Regions from separate parts of the Homo sapiens genome. Here region 2 is linked to region 1. Evidence: fine-mapped expression QTL. Tissue or cell type: blood mononuclear cells. Region 1 holds a variant in brackets; the other region holds the start of a gene. All regions are shown on one strand. Distances are from middle to middle.

Evidence for each region. PIP is the estimated chance that this variant, and not a neighbour inherited with it, causes the effect.
Region 2: CEP250 starts here. The variant in region 1 is fine-mapped to the expression of CEP250 in blood mononuclear cells (TOPMed, PIP 0.95).

Annotation. Positions count from the first base shown.
Region 1 is chr20:35,485,986-35,488,668 of GRCh38, reverse strand. All of the region lies in intron 20 of CEP250 (centrosomal protein 250), which reads right to left. All of the region lies in intron 1 of CEP250-AS1 (CEP250 antisense RNA 1), which reads left to right. Among named protein-coding and RNA genes, the nearest start is that of CEP250-AS1, 3.7 kb to the left of the region's middle. The variant G/A (reference allele first, on the strand shown) is at 1,480.
Region 2 is chr20:35,454,372-35,457,054 of GRCh38, reverse strand. CEP250 (centrosomal protein 250) reads right to left here and starts at 1,457. Exons shown (of 35, transcript NM_007186.6): 1 at 1,304-1,457. It also overlaps a transcript of GDF5 not described here. RefSeq lists a silencer at 1,663-2,042 and enhancers at 2,063-2,212, 2,473-2,522.

The DNA of each region.
Region 1 (2,683 bases):
AACATGGTGAAACCCCTTATCTACAAAAAATGCAAAAATTAGTCAGGTGTGGTGGTTCACTCCTGTGGTCCCAGCTACTTGGGAGGCTGAGGTAGGAGGATCACTTGAGCCCAGGAGGGCCTTGAGGGTGAGGCTGCCGTTAAGCCCTGATCACGCCACTGCACTCCAGCCTGGGCAACAGAGCAAGACCCTGTCTCAAAAGAAATAATAATAATAAAAAGAAAAAAAAGAGGTCTTCCTTTGTTCTTCCTTATAAAACCCGGCAATGTGTAATGTCAGTTACAGGACAGTCATGAATGACAAATCATTTTACCCTCTGGTTCAAAAAGCCAAAGACAGCGGGTATAGCTCAGTGGCAGAGTATGTGACTGCAAAAAGCCAAAGCCAACTGTAAAAATATGAAAAAGATGAATGTTAATAGCAGTTGCAAGTGTTAAAAAAACTGATCTATTTGCTCTATGTGAGTTAGAAGTGTGTTATAGCTACAAGAAGAGCTAATTCTGTGATGTGTAGGAAGTAACAGTCCAGCATTGCTGGTATGACCATGAACAGAATATTCTGCCCAGTTCAAAGTGCCACCTTTACACCACTGGGACATGAGTAAATTGTAACATGCCTAGAAGAAAGCAACCATGTTGGTGGGGTATTTCAAGCAAATCTAAGGCTCATTTGTTCCTGGTAATAGGTTTTGGTTCAACATGAATTTCCTAATAACTAGATCTATCTAAAATAAATGGGCAGCCAAGTGATGGAATACAATAGCAGCTAAGCAACCATTTGGAAGGGACATTACAGAGGTGGATAAAAAAGAAATGGTTAGGAGTTTGGGCCCTGAATCCCTTTTCTACCCCTTATTAGCCATGTAACCCTGACTTCTCTTTTTATATTTTATTTATTTAGAGATGGGGATCTTGCTATGTTGCCCAGGCTGGTCTCGAACTCCTGGCCTCTAGCGATCCTTTCGCCTTGGCCTCCCAAATTGTTGGAATTACAGGTGTGAGCCACCACGCCCAGCCCTGAGTGACTTCTCCATGCATTTATTCACCTTTATTGTGTGAATAAAGCATTCAGCATGGTGCTTGGCATGGGGAGGTGCTTAACAAGTGTCCAATATCATTACTCTTAAAGGGGAGACAGACAGTAGATGGAAGAATAAAGAATACAACTGCCAAGAGTGTTTCTTTTTCTTTTTTTTCTTTGAGACAGAGTCTCACTCTGTTGCCCAGGCTGGAGTGCAGTGGTGCGATCTTGGCTCACTGCAACCTCCACCTCCCTGGTTCAAGCAATTCCCCTGCCTCAACCTCCCAAGTAGCTGGGATTACAGGTGCATGCCACCACGCCTGGCTAATTTTTTTGTATTTTTAGTAGAGACGGGGTGTCACCAGGTTGGCCAGACTGGTCTCAAACTCCTGACCTTGGGCAATCCGCCCACCTCGGCCTCCCAAAGTGCTGGGATTACAGGTGTGAGCCACCACGCGC[G/A]GCCTCCCAAGAGTGCTTCTAATTGCCAGGATTCCAGGAGAAGGCAGTCACTGCTAAAACGAACAGGCTGTCGAGAGTTTTAAGAGGGCAGTTGACCTGCTCAATCATAGAGAAATAATAAAGTGGGACAATCAGAAGTCAGGAGGATTAGCTGAATGACAGAAAAGGAAAAGAGAGAAAAGGCCCTTTCATGACCCAGATATGGCCACTATAGTCAATCCTTTTAGGGAAACCAAGGCCACGTAGGTAGCTGGCTTATCATTCAGAAGTTTTATAGCATCTTTTATTTATGGAGTTTTCAGTACATGGTATACATCTGATTCCTGCTAGAATCAGTGTTCATTCAACAAATACTTTTAAGCACCGACTATAGACTAGGCACAGAATTCCAAAAATAAGCAAACTTCTGGTTATCATCTTGCCAATAAGCCTGCCTCATAATAACAATCAAATTACAAATACACATAAAGCACAAGTCAACTTCCATTTCCAGATACTTGATAAACAAGATCTCTGAACCCTCCAGCTACGAAATCGCAAAAAATGCTGGATAAAATATTAAATATGTATTTTAATGTATCACAGAACCAGCAGGAAAATAATAAAAATTCCACAGAAGCCAAAAGCAAAGCAAGACTTGTGGTGTAGGCCAGGTGTGGTAGTTCATACCTATAATCCCAGCAGTTTGGGAGGCTGTGGCAGGAGGATTGCTTGAAGCTAGGAGTTCAAGACCAGCCTAGGCAACAAAGTGAGATCACATCTCTACCAAAAAAAAAAAAAATTAGCCAGGCATGATGGTGCATGCCTGTAGTCCTAGCTAGTCTGGAGGCTGAGGCAGAAGGATTGCTTAAGCCCAGGAGCTTGAAGCTTCAGTGAGCTAGAGTTGTACAGTGCAGTTGTACAACTGCACTCCAGCCTGGGCAATAGCAAGACCTTGTCTTGAGGTCAGGAGTTCGAGACCAGCCTGGCTGATGTGGTGAAACCCAGTGTCTACTAAAAATGCAAAAATTAGCCAGGTGTGGTAGCATGCGCCTGTAATCCCAGCTACTTGGGAGGCTGAAGCACGAGAATTGCTTGAACCCAGGAGGCGGAGCTGAAACAGCACCACTGCCTGTGCAACAGAGCAAGACTGTGTCTCAAAAAAAAAAAAAAAAAAGTAAATCCACTATCTTTCACCCAATGCAAATGTAATTCAGAATTTAAA
Region 2 (2,683 bases), 32 kb after region 1:
ATCCCAGCACTTTGGGAGGCTGAGTTGGGCAGATCATTTGAGGCCAGGAGTTCGAGACCAGCTTGGCCAACATGGCAAAACCCCATCTCTCCTAGAAATACAAAAATTAGCCAGGCACGGTGGCGGGCGCCTGTAATCCCAGCTACTCAGGAGGCTGAGGCGGGAGAATCGCCTGAACCTGGGAGACAGGATGTTCCAGTGAACCCAGATCGCACCACTGCACTCCAGCCTGGGTGACTGAGACCAGGTCTCAAAAAAAAAAAAAAAAGTGGGGGGAGGCATATAACTTATAGCTTGGTCAGTGGCAGAGCAATGACTGAACCCCAATCTGATTCCAAATTCTACACTCTCTCCATTACATTAGCTGTTAAAGCATGAACATTACATTAGTTAAAGCATGGACTACGAACTCACAGCTCTGTGAGGGGCACTTCTTAAATAGTGAGCGATAATGACACCTATGTCTGCAGCTTTCTGATCGAAAAGGAGCAAAGAAAGATAGAAGAACTAAAGGAACAGAGGGCGTACCAGTAGCCTTGGTTTTGTTGTGACCTCTATAAATCTGGGACCAGTTCTCCTTTCTAAGCCTTCGCGGTAAAATACTGATCACAAGCCTAGCCTCCAATAACTCCCAGGGCCAAAGTAAAGATCAATTCAACAGACGTTGATTAAACCCAAAGGCAATCTAGTCAAGTCATCAAATGCCCTGGGGACAGTTTCCCAGCTCCATCCACTTATTAGTTGTGGGACTCCTGGCAAATTACTTTTTCTATGAATACCTCAGTTTCTTCATGGGTAAAACGTGAAGCTATAGAAAGAACTCACCCCATAGGATTGTTGGGAAGATTAAATAGGCCTTTGGCTGAGCGCGGTGGCTCACGCCTGTAATCCCAGCACTTTGGGAGGCCGAAGCGGGCGGATCACCTGAGGTCGGGAGTTCGAGATCAGCCTGACCAACATGGAGAAACCCCGTCTCTACTAAAAACATAAAATTAGCCGGGTGTGGTGGCGCATGCCTGCAATCCCAGCTACTTGGGAGGCTGAGGCAGGAGAATCGCTTGAACCCGGGAGGCGGAGGTTGAGGTGAGCCGAGATCGCGCCATTGCACTCCAGCCTGGGCAACAAGCGCGAAACTCCGTCTCTAAATAAATAAATAAATGGGCCCTTATGTGTAATGCATTCAGTAGCACCTGACAATTTGTGATCATTCCGTACAGTAAGCCATGACTATTATCATCACGTGCTAGGCCCTGGGATCTAGAGATGAAAAAGGCAAGGCATAACATCTAACGAACGAGCTTACGGTGTCAACGAGGGGCCGGGAAAGTAACTCGGTGCACAGCGAGTGCAAAAACCGAGAAGCGAATGCAGCTGCGCCTGGAGAAGGCGGCTGAGAAGCGATACTTCAGCAGGGTCCTGAAGAATGGGAGCTCCAGAGTCGGGTGGCGGGTGGGACTGGGCTTTCGGATAGATTACGTGCAAATCCGCCAGGACACAGGGAGCGAGGGGCGGGGGGGCGGCAGAGCGCGGCGCCTCACCCTCCCAGCCTGGGATTGCGGCTACTGGACACGAGGGTCGGGAAGCTCTCCTTCGGCGCCGACTGGAGCTTAGCGTGCTGGCGGCAGCAAGAAGCTGAGGCAAGCGGGCCCCGGGCCCTAACGACGCGTCCCAGCCCCTCTCTGGGCCTCGGGTTCCTCCCGGGTAACAAGAGGCCGCTGCCCGAACGGGATTCCCTCAGGCGCCCTAGACGGGCGGGTCTCCGGGCCTCGGACGGTTAACCCGAGCACCTCCCACCTGCCCCTGAGGCCCCACCTCACCACGCTCGGCTCCCGCAGACGCCCGGCTAGTTGCTCCGCGATTGAGCTGCGGCAGCCGCTGCTAAGGCCCTGCGGGGGACGGGGGCGGAGCCCACCCCGAGGCAGAGGGCCAGGCCCCGCCCCCCCAAACTCCCGCCCTTTGGGAGGGGCCCGCCCCTCCAAGTCCTGCACCTATAGGCAGACTGAGCCGGCGCAGGGCCTCCCGCCATGTTGGGTATTGGCAGCCGACTTACTAGAGAGGCCCTGAAGGAAAGGGGGTATTATTTTAAGAATTATAAGATCCCTAGCCAGAAATGGGGACGGTCAGGGTCTCTGGATTCGCGAAAGGGACATTTCGGAAGCAGAAAAGAAAAATTGCCCTCAATCATTTCGCTTTTGGCTTCAGTGTTACATACAGCGCATGTGCAAGGTCACCTGGTTCTAGGTGCGCCTGCGCACAGCTCCACCTACAAACCAGACTACAATTACAACTGCCGAGAAACAAAGGGGCTCGCTGCCACTGGTTAGCGATAATACTGGCAGCGCGACCGGTTTCTGAGGGTTGTTCACCTTGCTGCTCAGACGCTCCGAGAAGCTTCAGGCAGCATAACACTTACAGGCGAGTTACTTACTCAACACTCGGTTTTGTCTGCATGTCTCTGCACAGAGTGTTACCTTTACCTGACTTAATCCGTCCCGGAGCTGCAGTTCTGCTTAAGCCTGACTTCTAGAGAACTTTTTCTTCCCAATAGGACCCATGCGTTATTCCTGTAGCATTTTGTGTATAAATTTTTTTTTTTTTTTTTGAAATGGAGTCTTGCTCTGTCGCCAGGCTGGAGTGCATTGGCACGATCTCGGCTCACTGCAACCTCTGCCTCCCAGGTTCA